Homo sapiens: one gene and its partners. The protein of the gene in region 3 purifies or fractionates together with the protein of the main gene of each other region. This does not show direct contact. Each region holds a gene or a part of one and is shown on either strand. Other genes may lie near its edges.

Region 1 (4,237 bases), about 41 Mb from region 3:
TACAGCCGCTGGTTTCATCACCACACTTCCTTTTACTGACTTTGATCCTCTTGTCTCACTCTTGTAAGGAACCTTGTGATTATATTGGACTCACCCAGATAATCCAGAATAACCCCCCACCATCTCAAGATTCCTAACTTAATCACATCTGTGAAGTCCCTTTCTTGCCATATAAAGTGACATATTCACAGGTTTCTGAGATTAAGTCCCGGACGTCTTTGGAGGTTGTTATTTAGCCTACGTGTTGTTTTTGTTTGGTTGTTGTTTATTCCACATTTTGTTTTTTCCTTAGCGATTTCCCTTACTTCCTGTAAACCAGTAACACAGTGAAAAAAATGCTTTATGCAGGATCTAGTTATTTTGTCTTGGGAAATCTTTCAGATTATCTAGTCTTCTGTACTGACAAAAGCACAAGACCCCCAAGAAGTTTCTAAACAATATTAATTGGCTCCAAACCTTAGAACCAGCATCTGTAGGGTTAGGTTTATACATTTTTTTTTTTTTGAGATGGAGTCTTGCTCTGTTGCCCAGGCTGGAGTGCAGTGGCACAATCTCGGCTCACTACAACCTCTGCCTCCTGGGTTCAAGCAATTCTCCTGCCTCAGCCTCCTGAGTAACTGGGATTACAGGCATGTGCCACCATGCCCAGCTAATTTTTATATTTTTAGTGGAGGTGGGGTTTCACCTTGTTGGCCAGGCTGGTCTTGAACTCCTGGCCTCAGGTGATCCGCCCACCTAGGCCTCCCAAAATGCAGGGATTACAGGTGTGAGCCACCACGCCCGTCCCTATAAATCTTTATTTTAAAACTGTTCTTCTGGTCACTCTTAAAATAAACCAGAATTGATAGTCTCTACCCCATAACATGGTTTATATCTGGTGGGTGAGACATCATGAGAGGTCAGAGCTGACACTGAGGGGGAGGTAGGAAGGGAAGCACAAAATTCTGGCCCCTGGCTCAGTACCTGGTAACACAAGCTTTCTCGCTCTTTCCCTACACAGCCACTGGGGGCCTTCTTCCATTTCTTGGTAATCTTAAATCAGCTTTCCTGTGTGACCTTACAGGTGAATAGCGGTTTAACGCTATAGAATTAGAGGTAGTGAAAGACCAAGAGGAATTTTGCCTATCTATCTAAATACTAATTGTCTTTTCAGGGCCATCATAAAGAAAGCGCCTTTTGTATGAAACCTTTGCTGGTCCATCTCTGCCAAGTATTAAGTATGATATATAGCAGGAATCTCATATAATATTTTCTCAACTAGTTGCTCTTCAAAGGTAGGGACTATGTCCAGTTCATCATCTCATAACTCTACAGCCTTTGGCCTGTAATATCAATAGAAGGTGGTTGAATGAGACACAGAGGCCAGTGGCTTAAGGTTTTATTGATGCATTAGGGTAGATGGGGCAATAGAGAGATGTCAGAGATAAAAATAGTCCTGAAACCCCCCACAAGATGAGGACAATTCAGTACAAAGGGGTGACTTGCTCTGAGTCTTCCTGCTCCTGAGAGGGTCTGCACCGCAAAGCAGGTAAGAAAGAAGAGTTCAGGATAGAAAGCTCCTTGCAGAAATTATCTCATTGAGAAAGACCTAAAAGGGAAGCTGCATAATGAAGAGCTGATGTCCAGGGATGCACCCACTGGATTGGCCATGCAGGACAAGCCAAACTCTCTCCAGCTGTCTTCTTCCAGTACTGGACATTGGAGTCGGGGAAGTCATGGCTTGGTGCTTCTCAAGTAGGAATACAGCTCTCTAGCTGTGATGCCTCGCTTCTCTTCTGACTGGGCTGCATCCTGGCCCTGTGCTGAGGAAACACTGGTATGCAAGTTGCCCTGGTCCAGCCTGAGGATCACTGTCTCCCTTGAGTGGTCATCAACCCATTCCTCACCAACCACTGTGGGCTGTCTGTCTCCCTGCCCTTCTGTCACACAGCGCCTTGGGTGAGTGCTGCTCCACTCCTGCCTTCCTGACTCAGTGCTTGCCCCAGTCTGGGCCTGTCCTCCCGGTACTGTCTCTCCTGCCTCAGGGTTGCTCACTTGCATCCATCTTTGACCACTGCCTGGCTGCGTCTGGGTCTGTCCCTGTTCTCTAGCCCCTCCGTGGCTTACAGTTTGGCTTCTGTCCTGCTCCACAGTCTCGGTGTGTGACCCTGCCTGTATCTGAGTGTGTCCTCCTGTCACAGCCTGGCTGGTCTGGCTCCTGCCTTGACCGTGGATCTCAGTCCCTCTGTTCTGGCCATTGGTGGACTCCTGTGTCTGGGTGCTGGTGCTTCCTGTCTGGTGGCTGCTGTCCTGCTCCACGGTCTGGGTGGGTGTCTGGGTGTGTGTCCCTGCCTGTATCTGAGCATGTCCTCCTGTCACAGCCTGGCTGGTCTGGCTCCTGCCTTGACCGTGGGTCTCAGTCCCTCTGTTCTGGTCATTGGTGGCCTCCTGTGTCTGCTTGCTGGTTCTTCCTGTCTGGTGGCTGCTGTCCTGCTCCACAGTCTGGGTGGCACCTGCCTGGGTCTGAGTTCCAGATCCAGTCACAGTCTCACCTGTCTGGTGGGCTCTGTCCTGTTCCCTGGTCTGTGGCTGTCTCTCTGGCCTCATCTCTGTTGTCTGATTCCTCTTGCCTTCTCCAGCTTTCTGGGTCTGCTCTGTCTGCCCAGAGAGTTGTATCTGCGGGCTTATTCTTTCCTGGCTCTGGGACTCAGCTTGCCTGTCATAGCTGCTGACCCACGCAGAGCCAGTGGCCTGACCCTGGGTCTGAACCCCAGGCCTGTTCTGCCCTCTGGAACCCTGCTGGCTCTGTCTGTGGCTGCTCCCCTCATAATGCTGCCCTTTCCCCGCCCTTCCCACTTCAGTGCCACTTCTCTGTCCTTCGCCCAGCTCCTGCGAGGCCCCAGAGTGGAGGCTTCCAGACTCTTGAGAGCCGCAGGCTCCCTCAGCACTCTCGCTCAGTGTCTTGAAACAGGCCTGGGCAACTTTAAACACTAAGACCAGGAATTCCTTGAATTCCACAGTCCCTGTGTGGTCTTCATCCAGCAGACGCAGGACCTCATCCACAGTTGCTGGATCGTGGGGTTTCTGAGGAGAAGATGAGGTGGAGTCAGCATCCCTCCCCTGAGGAGGACATGGGCAGGTCCCTTCCAATCTGCTGCCAGCTTCCCCTGCCTCAGACCCCACACTACACACACATACGGCTAGAGCAGCAGCAAGACTTAATTGCCTTTATTTTTTTTTAGTCCCGTCTCTCTCCCTCAAGTGTAGAGAGCATTTTTTGTTTGGTAGCCTCTATTTGGCACAATTTCTGGGCTACAGGAAAATTAGATAAAGATTTATTGAAGAGTTAATAAATTATTGAATTCACAATGCAACTGTTTGGGCTCTCAAGTTGACTGTCTGGGCTGCCCTTGGCACCTTGCCCCTGGCACTGAGGCCTTAGTCTCTTCAGCAGGCCCAGCACAAAGAGCAGCAGGTTGGGAACACAGCCCCATGGGAATTCTGTGCGCTCCTCATTGAGGCCCAGATGTTTCCCCATGATAAAGAGGGAGGGAAGCAGTGGGCCCCTGCAGCGCTGCCCTGAGCATGTGGATGCAGCATCCTTCTGTGCCCATATGTCCTTGTCCCTAAGGCCATCATCATCCTGGTTGCTTTAGATGCAAACCAAAGACAGGAAAGTGCATCAAGGCCTTGGTTCTGGTTTGCCAGGTGGGGTGGGGTGAGGCTCCAAAGTCTCCCCCTAGCTATTAACAACCTGCTCTTCAAAATTTCATTTCTGATGTGATCAGTCTGCTAATATTTTTGAGTAACTGCTTCGTGCAAGCCCAGAGCTATGCTTCTAATGAATGTCTATGAATGGATGATTACATTTCAGATAGACGTGGGAAATATTTACTGTATCAAATTTAAGAGGCGGCAGAAAGCAGCAATTATTTTCATTTTGAAATATTCCAAGGCTCTGCTCCTGTCTGAGTTGTCCTTTTAGAGCCCTTTTACCTTGTCTTTAAGTTAGAATTAATTAAAACCAAGGTTTTAATCTAAAGAGCCAGGACTTGCCAACTCCCATGACCATCTCTGGTTCTTTCACCTTTTTTTCTGCCTGCACAGCTGCCATCTGTCCCGGCAGGCCTGGGTTTAGCTGCTGCCTCCTCAAATTCCCCAGGCAAGGCCTCTGCAGGCAAACCAGGTTTCACTCTCCTGCTATGTCCCCTCTCCACCCGGCTCAGCACACCGTACCACAATCACATCGGCAAACTCT
Region 2 (9,347 bases), on a different chromosome or scaffold from region 3:
CCCCAGTGAAACTGGTGAAATTTAAAAAAAGAAAGTTGGCCGGGCACGGTGGCTCACACCTGTAATCCCAGTACTTTGGGAGGCCGAAGCGGGCGGATCACGAGGTCAGGAGATCGAGACCACCCTGGCTAACACGGTGAAACCCCGTCTCTACTAAAGATACAAAAAATTAGCCAGGCATGGTGGCAGGCGCCTGTAGTCCCAGCTACCCAGGAGGCTGAGGCAGGAGAATGGCGTGAACCCAGGAGGCGGAGCTTGCAGTGAGCCGAGATCACGCCACTGCACTCCAGCCTGGGAGACAGAGTGAGACTCCATCTCAAAAAAAAAAAAAAAAAAAAAGAAAGAAAGAAAAGAAAAGAAAATTAAAGCCTCTGGAAATGTTCCCAAAGACAAACAGCAAACCAAGAAACATCTGTTCAAGAACATTCATGAAAATTCATCAAGAAAGTTGATCCTGTGTTATTTGAAACAAGATTGCTGTCTCCCTCCCATCTCAGCAAGGCAAACACTCCACTGTAGATTGCAGCAGCCAAGAACACAGGGATCCCTCCAGCTCCTAATTGCAAGGGGTTCCTCCACAGAGTAGCAGGATGTCAGTGTATCATTGTGTCTCCAGCTAGCTACCTGATGCTCAGATAAAGTCCCAGACAAGTGTGGTTGAGAGGTGAGGGCTCTCCCTTCTCCCACACAGCCCTCATCTTGCAACTGCATGCTAAGAACACTGGGGCCCTGATCACCCTTGCCCCAACTCATTAGGCAGTGGTTCTGCACAAGGAAAGGAAAGTCTAGAAGGTGGGCTGCTACACTCCCCACCTTCCCCACAAAATGCTCAGCAACTACAAAGGGTATCACTCAGAGACAAGACTGCCATTATCCCCATCCCCAACTCAAGTCCCCAGGCTCTGAGATTTTGCCTAAAGGAAGAATCAGCCCATAAACAGATAACTCCTAATCTCTTCCCAAAGGAGCTGAATTCATTTGCAACAAAGCATAGAGAAGTTCAAACCTGTCTAGGTGTGGTGGCTCATGATGTAATCCCAGCACTTTGGGAGGCCGAGGCAGGTAGATCATTTGAGGTCAGGAGTTTGAGACCGGCCTGACCAACATGGTGAAACCCCGTCTCTCTACTAAAAATACAAAACAAAAATTAGCTGGGCATGGTGGCACATGCCTGTAATCTCAGCTACTTGGGAGGCTGAGGCAGGAGAATCGCTTGAACTCAGGAGGTGGAGGTTGCAGTGAGCTGAGTCCACGCCACTGTGGTACAGCCTAGGTGACAGAGCGAGACTCCGTCTGGGGGAGAGGGGGTGGAGAGAAGTTCAAACCTAAGGGCACTCTCAGGAACAGTGTAGGTTTTAGTGAAAGTAATTAGGAAGACATTCAAGATACAAGCTAAATTGCAGGCCTGTTCACTTGCAGAAGACAATGGGGATATAAGACAATTAGGAGTAGCTACACTGGAGTCACAAGAAATATGAAAGAAAACCTCAAAAACTACTCCTTCAATGGAGCAAGAATTGAAGTAGTTTGTAAGACAATTTATGCCCAGGGCATTGTTAAAAAACAATAGAGCAATCAGCTAACAATTACTGGAGTTTAACAGCTGTGTGCAGTCATAGAAAGAAAGAGATCCCTACCAAAACCACTGTCATCCCAGGATAAAGGTGGGCATATCCAAAGCTGGAGCTTTGGATTCCTGAGGAGCAATATCAAAGGCTTAACAGTATAGGAGGGAAATAGACTTCACTAAATTGATCCAGCCAGTTGCTAAGCAAATACACAAGCAAACAACAATAAGAAGCCCCAGAAGGTAGGCTGCCAGCTCTTCATTTCTGCAGAGATCTCTGTAACTGATCAGATGGAAAATGATTAGATGGATACTGATCTGCACTTATGTGCAACTTTCTGGTAAATCTAAAAGGAACCCAAAGTAAAATGTTTACTTGATAAAAAAAGAAGAAAAGTTAATAAGCAAATAGCGAGAGAAAGTGAAATTTAAAACTACACAAATGTAGATAGTTCTGGCATTATTTCTAATTGAGATCTAAGGAAACATCATTGAGAAGTGCTAGGATTTGAACGAAGGCATGCTAAATCCAGATCTCCTACTCTTAACCACCTCAATATGCTACCTCTTGATCAAAGGTTAAAGAGAGTATAAAAGTTTATCATGTGGCTGTCATAAAATTTTGACATTTAAAGGAAGTCTAGGCTGGGTGCAGTGGCTCACACCTGTGATCCCAACACTTTGGGAGACCAAGGTGGGTGGATCATTTGAGGTCAGGAGTTTGAGACCAGCCTTGCCAATATGGTGAAACCCTGCCTCTACTAAAAATATAAAAAATAGCCAGGCTTGGTGGTGGTTGCCTGTAGTCCCAGCTACTCAGGAGGCTGAGGCAGGAGTAATCACTTGAACAGAGATGGAGGTTGCAGTGAGCCAAGATCGCACCCCTGCACTTCAGCCTGGGTGACAGAGCAAGACTCTGTCTCAAAAAAGAAAAGAAAAAAATGAAGTCTATAGGCATTCACTGTAAAATTCTTTCAACTTTGAGGTCCTCTATGTGTCCATCTAAAAATATGCTTAAGTCTATTCTCAGTAGCTTTATTCATAACAGCCCTAACTATAATAAAAACCCAAATGTCAATCAACAGGAGAATAAACAAATCATGGTATACTCACATAATGGAACACTACACAGCAATGAAAAAGAACTGCTGCTACATACAATGATGGACAATGATCACAGACATAATGTTCAGTTGAAGAAACCAGAATAAAAAAAGAATACATACTGTACCATTTATATTAAGTTCAAGAATAGAAGCAAAACTAATCAGTGATAATAATAATCAGAGTAATGGTTGGGGATCAGGTAGTTATTGACTAGGAAGGGTCACAGGGAACTTTCTGGAGTACAGGAACAGTTCTATTTCTTGATCTGGATGGTGGTTACATTAGTGTATTTATATGTAAAAATTTGTTGAATAATATTAAGATTTGTGCCCTTAACTGCATGAAGCTATACCTCAACAAAACAGTAAGTCTTTTAAAGAGTCTTCCTGCTTTAAAACAGACCATTGGATGCTTTACTCTGCAGTCTAGATAAATACTCATCAGTCATTTGCCCAAACATGATTGGGTTCAGAAAGGGAATCTTAGGCCAGGTGCAGTGGCTCACGCCTGTAATCCTAGCACTTTGGGAGGCCAAGGCAGGTGGATTGCTTGAGTTCAGGAGTTCAAGACCAGCCTGGGCAACATGGTGAAACCCTGTCTCTACTAAAATACAAAAAATTAGCAGGGCATGGTGGTGCACGCCTGTAGTCCCAGCTACTTGGGAGGCTGAGGCACGAGTACTGCTTGAACCCAGGAGGTGGAGATTGCAGTGAGCCAAGATTGCGTCACTGCACTCCAGCCAGCCTGGGTGACAGAGCAACACTGTCTTTAAAAAAAAAAAGGGGGGAATCGTATATTTCACTTTTTCATTTCTCTGATTTCACAGTCAGCAACTCATGGTGTCAATGATGTCACTAGAGATAGCCTTCATGGGGCCGGGTGTGGTGGCTCATGCCTGTAATCCCAGCACTTTGGGAGGCCAAGGTGGGCAAATCACGAGGTCAGGAGATCGAGACCATCCTGGCCAACACAGTGAAACCCCGGCTTTACTAAAAATAAAAAAATTAGCTGGGCATGGTGGCGCGTGCCTGTAATCCCAGCTACTTGGGAGACTCAGGCAGGAGAATCTCTTGAACCCGGGAGGCGGAGGTTGCAGTGAGCCAATATCGCACCACTGCACTCCAGCCCGGCAATAGAGCAAGACTCTGTCTCAAAAATAAAAAAGAGAGAGAGAGATAGCCTTCGGGGCACAAAGTAAAAGTTGCAAAGACCACTGCACGGGCTCTCTTCTCCCATGTGTTCCCACTTCATGCTCCAGGCCTCTGGGCTGCTGGGAATGCAAGAAGCACTTTAACTGGGAAGTCATCAACCTCAATTTTGCCAACAAACTTAAAGGAGTGGAAAAGTTCCCCATGGCATCACCACCATCATAAAGGAGAGTGCTCCCACCACTTTAGAAAGGTTCTCAAATTTGGTTTTCAGACAAGAGCCCTCAGTCACATACATATATCTCATTAAATAAGCAGATGTTTTACTTATTTAACAGGCATCAAATTTTTTGCTTGAGTCCAGATTTAGTGACTGATCCATAAAGTGGAAACAAAGAACAAACAGTATGATTGTTCAGAAAGCAGGATGAACATTTCTCTCCAATAAGGTACCATTTTGTGAGCTCATAGTCCTTGAATACTGAAAATGATGAAAGGAAAAGGAATATTTTATATGCAAAAAGGTAGCATAAGGAGGTGTTCCGATTAGGTGTGATCGACCTAAAAGATTAATGAAACAACAAACCCATCAAAAACGACTACAATTGACAGAAAGCTAGAAACATTAACGGCGTTGGAAAGCTCAAATGACAGAAGTTCACAAATTCTTAATCATCTAATCCAGGCCTCTCCTCATTACCATTCAGACCACTCACAAAGATCCCATTAAATCAGCTCATAATCAGGTTTACAAAAATAAGACTCCTTAAGAGATGTGGCAATGTGAGAAGTGGAGCACGTACACAGGCACAGCAAATGACTACGTTAGTGAAAACTGTAGGGTTTATCATAAGCAAAATGACAGTGCTCTCCTCCGTGAAAAAGAGAAAGAAATCGGACGGGTCTCCTTTAAGTGAAAATAGAGACTGTGAGAACATAAAGACATTGCTGACATCTGTGTTTTAACATTCCATTTATTTAAGGAAAGAGGAGAAAGAAATGTTTGGAATATAAATAAACCCTTCCCTATAGGAAGGTCAGAAATGTAGAAATACGCAGAAGCTGGTGGGAGCAAAAGCCGATCCTGAGACAAGGATATCTAGAGAGGTAGCCCTGGTCGGGATGTGGGAAGAGGCCTGCGAAGAAACAGCAGAACCAAGGGAAAGAAAGGGAAGAACGTCAGGTCCACTGCTCATCCCGAGCGCCTAGAACTGCGCCAGACTCCTGGCATGCGCACAGGACACTGAAGGAAGGGATGAGCTTTTCGGCTAGCGTATTGTCTTTGAGCGACAGAGCGGGATTCCCAAACGTCCCCGCCGGTCACTCAGCTCCTGCAGTTCATGCCTAGCAAGAACCTTGCGGGCGGTCCGAGGCTGCCATCCTTTCACAGCTGTATTTGGGGGCAAAAATAGGGTAACGAAGCCGGGGGCCCAGACTTACTTTTGCAGCCGGGTGCCATAGCGCCCTCACCCCTCGATCCCGAAAACAATGCAGCCGGTGCCTCCACCTCCCGACTGCACCGCGCGCGACTGAATTCCGCCCGCTCAAGATGGCCGCAAATTTGAATTTGGCGCTTGGATCGGACGTTGACGCCCGCATGGAGGCCGCCATGTTGCCCGGCCTACGCATCGGGGGCGTGGCCCAGTGACGTCACAGCTAAGCGCCTCTGTATCGTCGCGAATCCGTCGCGGAACCTGTCTTCTGTCTTTACCCAGAGCTACCATGAGCAAGCGGAACCAGGTATCGTACGTGCGGCCAGCCGAGCCGGCGTTTCTGGCCCGCTTCAAGGAACGGGTCGGCTACAGGGAGGGACCCACCGTAGAGACTAAGGTGAGCCTTCGCCAGTCGTGTTTCTTCGGAAGCGCAGCCAGCCCGCCACTTTCAACTTTTGCCTCTACTTGGAGGGTGGGTGCTGTCGGGTCCCTCTTTTCACCCGCGCTCGAACCCAATTCCGGTGGAACTCGGACCCCCAGGCTGGTTCTTTTCAAGCGACCACAGCCCCCTACGCCCAGGAAGCTCTGTAGTTTTCAGAGCGCTGCTGTGTTCCTGAAAATGAACTGACGTGTAAACCACCTGGTCCTTGGTAGATGGTAAAGAAAGATCACTTTATTGTCTCTTCTTTCTCACTTGTTTACCTCAAAAGCTGTGAGTTCGCAGGGTGAGTTAGAGTTACAGCGTCGTCCCGTATTCCAGATAAGGACACAGGCCACTCGATCAAATGACCCCCGCCCCAACCATGTCCTAGGACTCGAGTCTGGAACGTCTTCGGAGGAATGTCCTGAATCTGTTTCTATGCTTTGTTAATTAAAAATAAATAAAAATAATATAGAGAAGGTCGGGCACAGTGGCTCACGCCTGTAATCCCAGTACTTTGGGAGGCCTAGGTGGGCGGATCACCTGAGGTCAGGAGTTCGAGACCAGCAGAGCCAATAGCCAATATGGTGAAACCCCCCGTCTCTGCTAAAAATACAAAAATTAGCCGGGCATGGTGGCACATGCCTGTAGTCCCAGCTACTCCGGAGGCTGAGACAGAATCGCTCGAACCCGGGAGGTGGACGTTGCAGTGAGTTGAGATGGCGCAGCTGCACTCCAGCCTGGACAACAGAGCGAGACTCCGTCTCAAAAAAAAAAAAAAAAAGCCGGGCCTGGTGGCTCACGCCTGTAATCCCAGCGCTCTGGGAGGCTGAGGCGGCAGATCACGAGGTCAGGAGATCGAGACCATCCTGGCTAAAACAGTGAAACCGCGTCTCTACTAAAAATACAAAAAATTAGCCAGGCATGGTGGCGGGCGCCTGTAGTCCCAGCTACTCGGGAGGCTGAGGCAGGAGAATGGCGTGAACCCAGGAGGAGGAGCTTGCAGTGAGCCGAGATCGCGCCACTGCACTCCAGACTGGGCGACAGAGCGAGACTCCGTCTCAAAAAAAAGAAAAAAAAGAAGAGTAAGCAGAAGCCGTAAATATCCTGGGTCTAAATAGAAGAAGAGGAGCTTCAGGAAAGAGCCACACCTGACTATTGTTGTCTAGGGCCGGAGGGATCAGTATTGAACACATGAATGACAAGAAAGCAAAACAGCTACATTGCTGATACAGAGAAAGTTTTAGTGGTCTGGATAGAAGAGCAAACCAGCCACAACATTCCCTTTAACCAAAGCCTAATCTAGAGCAAGGCCCTAACTCTTAAATCCTGTGAAGTCTGAGACATGTGAGAAAGCTGCAGAAGAAAAGTGTGAAGCTAACAGAGGTTGGTTCATGAGGTTTAAGGAAAGAAGCCATCTCCATAACATAAAAGTATGAGATGAAGAAGCAAATTATTCAGATCTAGCTAAGATAGTTGATGAAGGTGGCTACACTAAACAGGTTTTCAATGTAGATGAAACAGCCTTCTATTGGAAGAAGATGCCATCTAGGACTTTTTTTTTTTTTTTTTTTTTGAGATAGGGTCTCACTCTGTCGCCCAGGCTAGAGTGCAGTGGTGCAATCACAGCTCACTGCAGCCTTGACCTCCTGGGCTCAAGTGATCCTCCTGCCTCAGCCTCTCAAGCAGCTGGGACTACAGGCATGAACTAACGCATCTGGCTAATTTTTGTATTTTTTTGTAGAGACAGGATTCCACTGTGTTGCCAAGGCTGGTCTCAAACTCCTGGACTCAAGCAATCCTCCCACTTTAGCCTCTCAAAGCCTCTCAAAAACCACTATGCCTGGGCCATTTAGGACTTTCATAGCTAGAGAGAAGTCAGTGCCTGGCTTCATATTTTCAAAGGACAGGCTAACTCTCTCATTAGGAGCTAATGCAGCTGGTGACTTTTAAGTTGAAGCTAATACTTACCATTCCAAAAATCCTAGGGTCCGTAAGAATTATGCTAAATCTACTCTGCCTGTGCTCTAGAAATGGAAAAACAAAACCTTGATGACAGCACATCTCTTTATAATATGGTTTACTGAATTATTTTTAGCCCACTGTTGAGACCTACTGCTCAGAAAAAAAAAGATTCTTTCAATATATTATTGCTCATGGACAATACACTTGGTCACCCAAGAACTCTGATGGAGATCTACAAGGAGATTAACGTGGGGTTTTCATGCCTGCTAACACAACATCCATTCTGCAGCCCATGGATCAAGGAGTAATTTCTATTTTCAGTCTTATTATTTAAGAAATAACAGCCAGGCGCAATGGCTCACACTTGTAATCCCAGCACTTTGGGAAGTCAAGGCAGGTGGATTGCTTGAGCCCAGGAGTTCAAGACCAGCCTGGCCAACATGGTGAGACCCCATCTCTACAAAAAATACAAAATTTAGCCCAGTGTGGTGGCATGCACCTGTGGTCCCAGCTACTTGGGAGGCTGAGGTGGGAGGATTCCCTGACCCCAGGTAGGTTGAGGCTGCAGTCAGCCATGATTGCACCACTGCACTCGAGCCTGGGTAACAGAGCCAGACCCTGTCTCAAAAAAAAAAAAAAAAGTCAAAACCATTTGTAAGGCTACAGCTGCCATGGATAGTGATTCCTCTGATGCATCTGGATATTGTAAATTGAAAACTTTATGGAAAGGCTTCACCATTCTAAACACGTTAAGAACATCCATGATTCATGGGAAGAGGGCAAAATATCAACATTAACAGGAATTTGGAAGAGGTTGATTCCAACCTTCATGGATGACTTCGAGAGATTCAGGCCTTCAGTGGAGGAAGTAATTGCAGGTGTGGTAGAACAAGCAAAAGAACTAGAATTAGAAGTAGAGCCTGAAAATGTGACTAAGTTGTTGCAGTCTCATAAAAATTGAACAGATGAGTTGCTTCTTATTGATGAGCAAAAAAAGTGGTTTATTGAGATGGAATCTACTTCTGGTGAAGATGCTGTGAACATTGTTGAAATGTCAATAAAGGATTTAGAATAAACTTACTTGGTAAAGCAGCAGCAGGTTTAAGAGGACTGATTCCAATTTTGAAAGGAGTTCAGCTGTGGGTAAAATGCTATGAAACAGCATTGCAGCATCACAAAAGAGAAATCTTTTGTGAAAGGAAGACTCAATGCAGCAAACTTCATCGTCTTATTTTTAAAAATTGCCACAGCCACCCCGCCTTTCAGCAACCACCACCCTCATCAGTCAACATCCATCAGCATCAAGGGCAGACCCTTCACTGGCAAAAAGATTAGGACTCACTGAAGGCTCAGATGATTTTTAATGTTTTTAGCAATAAAGTATTTTTAAATTAAGGTAGGTACATCTTCCAGACTCCTGTTAATGTTGATATTTTGCCTCCTCCCATGAATCGTGTACTTAATGGGATCTAGATTTTTTTAGACATAATGATATTGCATACTTAATACTAACTGTAGTTAGTGTATAGTGTGAACATAACTTTTATGTGAACTGGGAAACCAGAAAATTTGTGTGACAATTTATTTTGATACTTGCTTTGTTGTGGTGGTCTGGAACCAAATCTGCGGTATCTTCAAGGTATGCCAGTAGAATGAGTATGTGCTAACCCCATGCACTGTCGCAGGCTCTGAAAGGACGAAGAGAT
Region 3 (7,540 bases):
CTGTTTCTAGTCCTTTCTCCCCAGTCTCCCTGCCCAAATCCCCAAGCCGAGGCTGTCAGCACAACATCAAATCCCACGTGGTACAAGATGAAACAGATAGGAGAATGCTCATTTACTTGTGGTGGTTAGAGAGACAGGGTGCAGGGCTAGTTGTTGGGGCTGCTGTGGAGAGAGTGCCTTGTCTTTCTACAAGAAAACACAAAAGGAATTAGTGTATCTGTCACTTTTCATGATACCCTTCCAGCTTAAGTTTCCCCAGGTGCCCCATTCTACCCAAGCAACCAGTGGAAATTAAGGATGGGGCTGCAACTCTTACAAAAATGAGAGAACATTGTTTTTTAGATTCCAAGTACTTTTAAATGAAAAATAGAACTTAAAAATCAACTACATACATGAAATACAAGCCTAGTGTTCCTTTGATTAAAAAAAAAAATCTCATATGTTGCTCTCCTCAAAGATTTTAATAGGAACTCCTGAAGAGATATGCTCCCTCTGGCCTAAGGAAAGCATCTCCCAGCTAGGGAGAAACAACAAATGCTTCCCAAAGTCCTTGGGGAATTTGACCTTGAAACTGCTGCCCTTTTATGTTTGCCCTTTTTGCAGAGCAGCTATTAGCAGTGCCTAGCCAAAAACAGCCACAGTGGTTTTCCCAATGCCTACACCACAAATAGGGGAGCAGGACCCACCTAGTTTGATATTGAGCAGAGACACCCTTTACTCAGATTTGGAGGGCCAGGCAGGTCTCTGTGGTTCCCCCTTTCACCCCTCCTGGCATTAAATTCTGTGTCCTGGTAAAATTGGATTCTTCCAGTTTCAGAAATGCACTAGCTAGTGCCTTTCCATTACAGCCCTTCAGCACAATTTCTAGTTATTTTAACTCAGACGTGAGGCAGGTAATTATTCCTGTCGTAAACTCACCAGTGTCGGGTTTACATGTGGAGCCATTGCCTCCCATGCTGTCATCCCCTGAGAATAAAACAAGGTATCTCTTAGAAAGCTTGGAAGGGAGAGCCGGCTTAAGGGCCAGCTCTGAGACTGTGATTGTCATATAAGAGTAGTAACAATGAGAGGCAATTTGTGGGTGTTCTAGTGCCATCAGTGGTCACAGATCACTCATCAGTGGTTAACAATTCTGGTGTTGTTTCTGCAGCTCAGCAGCCAGCCTTCAGGTTTGCAGGTCCAGAAATTTGATCTTATCAGGGCACCAAGAAATGACTGATTTCTCCAGAACTGATTCCCACCAACCAACTCACAGGAGACTGATGTATAAGCCGAAATAACATTAGGTACATGTTGGTGCAATCAGTGAATTTTGCCTATCAGGGGAACATATAAGAATGCCAATGAAAATCATAAATTTGCTTGGTAAGCACTGAACTGAAGTAAGTATGAGAGAAGATGAATGGATGATTTTTATATTGACTGCCAACTGGGTCTGATGTATCAATCTTACTCTTCCCTGGCATTGCTACATAAACTTTGACAAACTTGCTCTTGGAGACCCTTACTCTAGACCTCATTAGACACTTCTAATCTGTTCACGTATTATCTTCTCAAGTTTGCCAATATTCTTGTTTAGGCTTTATATCAAAATGTATAAAATATCTAAAGGCAGGAAAGTGAAATCACCCAAACTCCTACTACTCATTAATGTTTTTAGTGTCTTTCCTTTTAGTCAGACTTCCATGCATTTTTTAAAAAGCTACTTGAGATATTTCTTTTTATAAGAGGTTATATCTTCCTTTTACACTCAGCATTTTGCCATACACATTCTTCTATGTCACTAAAAACTTTTTATAACATTTTTTAGTGGTGATAGGTCTTTCCATTATAGCTATGTACTATAACTTGCTTAACAAATTCCCCACTTACTGATAGAATTGTTTCCATTTTTATTTAAATCAATAACAATGAAAGAGATATTTTTGTGCATAAAACATTGTATGCATCCCTGATTTTTTTTTTTAGGAGGCCAAAATTTTACTTTGTATTTAGGCAAACTCATGGGAAAATGTTTTGGCTTTGTTATTTCTTCTATATTTTAAGGTCATTTCTTTAAACAAATGTCATCAATTATTTATTGTTTTATTGTTCAGCTCTCAAAAGTTAACTTCCAAGTCCTTGGACCTGTGGGAGGGTTGGGAGAAGGACACCTCATCGCCCTGTACCTGTTACAATAGCAGCAACAACAACATTACCAAGTACCTTACAATTCACCAAACATTTTTAGATCATGCAATGTCAGATAAGAAAAGGGCCAACGGGAAAATGTGTTGAGGAATCTGAGCCATGAGAATAGGAGGCCCACAGTCCGCAGCAGAATCGGCAGTGGTAATTTTTCTCACACTTTTTGCTCCTTTTCTAACTTGTAAGTCAGTGGTGCTCTTTGCAGACCATCATAAAATATTGACATAATATTTTTAAAATATTGAAATATATGCTGGTGCTAAACAGAGTATGAGCTTACACTAGGCTTTGCCACTGGAGAGGTGGAAGAAGATAGGATCATAGGTTTCTGTAAAATCCTGAAATTCACAGTAGCAGTTCTGAATTTACAAAAATGTTACCATAGCCGCTGTGAAAACATTAGGCCACCCCACCCTAACTTTCACATAAATGGACAAAATCATCGTACAATACCACAGGGAAATAGCTACTCACAAATCCAGGCCAAGAAAAGCAGGAAATATATTTCCCTTTCAGCACAACCCAAACAGTTGGCAGAAGCATAAATTAAAATAGAAGCGGTGCTATATATACTTTTTCACGTTTCATCCAGCACTGGAGAATCTTACTGATAGCGTAAAATCCATCAACTTAATAGAACCATTCAAATACAACCCTTCCTGCATCAAAGAAAACAAGTGATAGAAACCACTAACAATTAGACGACACTTTCTTTTGGTGAGTGATTATTTAATCTAGATTAAAAGCATGTGGTAAATGCATTTACCTTTCAAGAAAAAGTCCGGTCATAGCACGACGCAGTCGTCTAAGACTGAGCATTTCACTTGCTTCCGTTACGGCTTCTATGTTTCAAAAATGACGAAATAAAGATTACTGCCCCTGCCACTGCCAGCATCACATTGTGTGTAGCAAAGATCTTACTAAACTCAACGGTAGGCTTCCTCTTTGAGGTCAACATTATGATTTATTTTATTTTTTGAGACGGAGTCTCGCTCTGTGGCCCAGGCTGGAGTGCAGTGGCGCTATCTCGGCTCACTGCAAGCTCTGCCTCCCGGGTTCACGCCATTCTCCTGCCTCAGTTTCCCGAGTAGCTGGGAATACAGGCGCCCGCCACCACGCCCGGCTAATTTTTTGTATTTTGTTAATAGAGACGGGGTTTCACCGTGTTAGCCAGGATGGTCTTGATCTCCTGACCTCGTGATCCACCCGCCTCGGCCTCCCAAAGTGCTGGGATTACAGGCCTGAGTCACCGTGCCCAGCCCAACATTATGATTTTTTAATCTTTCTTTTGTACCTTTTCTTTGTGTCTGACACATGAATGACAGAACATAAGGAGGCAAGACAGGTTTCTTGCTAATTAAATATTTATTAAGTGTTTACTTTAACCACTGTGCCAGATTTACTGTGGAGGTCGCATCAGTATGACATTGTCATCAAAAACCTTATAATCTCATCTATTCTAACCAGGGAGATGAGGCTGATAATGAAAAATGAAGAGCAAACAGTGCTAAGAGTTAAGTACTAGCTGTGCAGACTTCAAATGTGTTAAGAGTGTTAAGATCCCTTCAAAGGGAAGGCGAATCATTTCTTTATAAATATTTATTTGTAAAATAATATTAATAAATATACTCATTAAGTAAATGCTATAGGCCATACAGTGAGCTAGTATTATAGGGTTTTTTTTTTCTTTTTTTTTCTTTCTTTTTTTTTTTTTGAGGCAGAATTTCATGCTTGTTGCCCAGGCTAGAGTGCAATGTTGCAACCTTGGCTCACTGCAACCTCCACCTCCTGGTCTCAAGCAATTCTCCTGCCTCAGCCTCCCAAGTAGCTGGGATTACAGGCATGCGCCACCATGCCCGGCTAATTTTGTATTTTTAGTAGAGACGGGTTTCACCATATTGGTCAGGATGGTCTTGAACTCCCGACCTCAGGTGATCCGCCTGCCTTGGCCTCGCAAAGTGCTGGAATTACAGACGTGAGCCACTGTGCCTGACCAGGTTATATAGGTTTAATAACTGACCAGATTATTACAGGTTTTTCGGAGAGCAAGGCAGAAAAGTTCCTTGCCTCACAGACTCTACCACATAATTGAGAAGAGAAATGAAAAACAAGTAAATGATAAGTCAATGACACATTGTATTAAGGGCCTTGAGGGAAAAAAAAGAGTGCTAGCTAGACAGAATACACTGGGAGAATGTCTTCAGAGAAGATGGAGGACTGGGGAAGGCTTCTCTAAGGAGTGCACATTTCCACTTAGAGAACTCGAAGATGAGAAGGAGCTAGCCAGGCACAGAGTCTGGGGAAGAGGTTTCCACGTGGAGAAGAGTAACTCACAGCTGGCAGAGCTGGAGAAATCAGGCAAGGAAGTATTCAGGTAAACCTTGAGCGTGGATAGGCTTTGGATGGATGGAGGGAGAAAGGGCTGTGGGAGGGGTGCCCTAGGCCCAGGGTTGGTTGCTGAAATTCAAGTGATGTATTTCTGGGATATTAGCACAGTTCAAGAGTGGAACATTTTGGCTGGGTGTGGTGGTTGACGCCTGTAATCCAGCACTTTGGGGGGCTGAGGCAGGAGGATCCTTTGCGCCCAGGAGTTTGAGGCTACAGTGAGTCACGATCATGCCATTGCACTTTAGCCTGAGTGACAGAGTGCTTAAATAAATAAATAAATAAATAGGGAGGGGCATTTGGAGAGGGTGGGAGATGAAAAATAGTTGACTTAGATGGATTGCAGCCAGATGGTGGGGAGCTTTAAGTCCAAGCAAGACATATTTGAAATATTTAAAAAATAAACACTAAATATTTTTGATTGAGATATAACATGATAAACATAGCCTTTATGACAGATTGTACCATATCATATAAGATAAATTGTGGGTAGAGACAAAGAAGCTAGATGGTACGGTGATATTCTGGGTATTGTGTAGTAAGGGTATAGGCTGAAACCACAGGGATCATAAAATTGGAGGACATATAACTTGGGACCTGGATATTGGGAATAAAACAGTAGGATGAGTCAATGATTACTTCAAGTTTTTGAACCTCAGTTGCTGAGATAATTCATTTCTTCATTCACTTACTCCAAAACATTTATTGAACATTTACTATGTGCTGTGTACCATTCTAAGCTTTAAGGATATTATGACGAGCGTGAGGGGCTGCCTTCATGGAACTTTCAGACTAGTAAAGGAGGCCCTTACCACACAAAGAAATGGTAAATTGTGATTGTTAAGTGTGCTGTGAAGGATCAGGACCCTGTGCCATGGATGCCTACAACAGAGGGGAAGAGGACCAGGGAAGCCTTCCTAGAGCCAAAAAACATAACAAAATGACCCAACACTTAAGCTGAAATCTGAAATGTGAGTTGCAGTTCCACTAGAACAAGAGGAAGGGAAAGTTCAGAGGGAACAGAACATTTAAAAATCCTGTGCCAGAAGGAAGGTAGGAAGTTGAAGGGCAAAAAAAAAAAAGACTAGTTTGACAAAAGCTGAAAGAGGAAGTATGTGAGGTGGCACTGGGTTGTGGGCAGAGGGTGGAGCATGATGAGGATGAGGTTGAATAGGCAGGAAGGGGCCAGTCCGTCACAACTTTTGTCTTTAAGAGAAGTGGGTTTATCTGTACTAAAGATATTTAAGCAAGGGTGACATGATCAGGTTTGCATTACGGAACAATCACTAAAACTGGAGCAAACAGATTGGAAGTTAGCCAGAATAGATATGAATAGACCGGCTGAGAGATTACTGCAGTGATACAGTTGAGGAGGGTAATAGTAATGTGGACTAGGATGGTAGCACTAGAGATGAAGAGATATATATGGATTTGGGAGATATTTAGGAAGGTGGCAGCAAAAACAAGGGGGGATAAAAGATTAGACAATGATCAAAGATACAACCAAAGGGCAAGAAGGAGGAAGAGGAGCCACAGAAGGAAACAGCGGTATTTCAAGACTTAGAGGGAGGATTAACTAATTAATCAGACATTTAGTTAGCACCTACGAAAACACCCTGTCAAGCTCTGGAGGTTCAATAATGAGTAAGACAACAGTTCTTGACTTGCGGGATCTGTCCGTTGCAGAGAGACAGATATCTTCATTCATCTACAAAAGCATGTTCCAGACTGGCCAGTCACATAAATAAGCATAATGAAATATTGTAGATGTGAGACATCCGTACAGGATAGAGTGAGATGCAATGAACAAAGAGGTCAGGCTACACAATAAGGAGGGAGGATAGGTGTCAAGAAAAGCCTCATAGAGGAGACAATGTTTGAGTTGCACCTTGAAAGATGAATAATTTTCTAGGCAGAGCGAGGGAGGAAGTGTATTCCAGGTAGAGGGACAGGGTAAACAAGGGCATGCTTTGGCACGATGGTTGAGTTTAGGGAAATGCAAGTATTTCACCATAGGTGGTGCTATGGGGAATGAGGATAGGATAAGGGTGGGTGATGGAAGAGGAAAGGCTGGAGAGGATAGATAAAACCAGGTAATGGCGGGCCCTAAACATATTTTACCCGTATAGGCAATGGAAAGACTGCTGAAGAGGACTAACACAAGCACATTTGGGTTTAGGCAACAGAGTGTAGGGGGGACTGGTGAGGTGCCAGACAGTGGGTGAAGAATCCTTTGGTGTTGCAGAGTTCCAAGTGAGAAACTAGGATGATCTGAATAGCGGCAATGGCCATGGGGAAGAGGTAGAGCAGATAGGTGATGAGTCTAGTCATTTATTAGGTGTGAGAGGAAAGTAAGAGAGAGAGGGGATGTGGCAATAACTAGGTTTCCTGCGTTGTATCCATCAACTAATGTTGATAATATAAAATAAGGGGTTATAGGATTGGGAAAAAATAATGAGTTTAATTTTGGACACATTGGGTTTGGGGTGCCTGTGGAACATTTAGGTAAAGATGTTGAGAGAGCAGTTGGATGCACAGATCTGGGGCTCACAAAAGAGATCTAGATTTGTGTGGTAGACAGTACTAGTTCTCACCAATAACCAGTTCTCCTCTCCTTCTTGTGTGGAGCCTCCCTTGTGGTTGGGTAATGTCATGTGACAAGTTCTGGCCAATGGGTAGTGAATGAAGTGATGCATGTCTCATTTAGCCAAAGCATTTAATTGCTAATGCAAAACCTGCTCTGACCCCCTCCCACAACAATGGAGATTTTATGATGGGAAGGTGAAGGTAAGAGTTCTAACCCTGGATCACTGAGTCAACATATGGAGGACAGTTTCTCTGGGGAGTCACTTGGACCCCCAGTAGACTCTATATGAGCAAAAAGTAAACTTTTCTGTATTGAGCTACTGAGATTTTGGGTAGATCTTTTCTTTTCTTTTTTTTTTTTTTTTAAGACAGGTCTTACTAT

What was found.
Region 1: the proteins of C1orf162 (region 3) and CRNN purify together in Homo sapiens (affinity purification with mass spectrometry; 2 studies listed by BioGRID and IntAct, with this or other methods). This does not show direct contact.
Region 2: the proteins of C1orf162 (region 3) and KIAA1143 purify together in Homo sapiens (affinity purification with mass spectrometry; 2 studies listed by BioGRID and IntAct, with this or other methods). This does not show direct contact.

Annotation. Positions count from the first base shown.
Region 1 is NC_000001.11:152,407,881-152,412,117, forward strand, and holds the end of CRNN (cornulin), read right to left. Parts: coding exon 4,216-4,237; intron 3,064-4,215; coding exon 1,714-3,063; 3' UTR 1,363-1,713; downstream 1-1,362. UniProt on the Homo sapiens protein: Promotes cell proliferation, G1/S cell cycle progression and induces expression of the cell cycle regulator CCND1. Regulates proliferation induced by pro-inflammatory cytokine response via activation of NFKB1 and PI3K/AKT signaling pathways.
Region 2 is NC_000003.12:44,757,800-44,767,146, reverse strand, and holds the start of KIAA1143 (uncharacterized protein KIAA1143), read left to right. Parts: upstream 1-5,527; 5' UTR 5,528-5,544; coding exon 5,545-5,652; intron 5,653-9,347. Other genes in the region: kinesin-like protein KIF15, read right to left, coding at 5,263-5,281.
Region 3 is NC_000001.11:111,469,444-111,476,983, reverse strand, and holds the start of C1orf162 (transmembrane protein C1orf162), read right to left. Parts: upstream 3,001-7,540; 5' UTR 2,954-3,000; intron 967-2,953; 5' UTR 964-966; coding exon of another isoform or gene 956-963; coding exon 919-955; intron 187-918; coding exon 117-186; intron 1-116.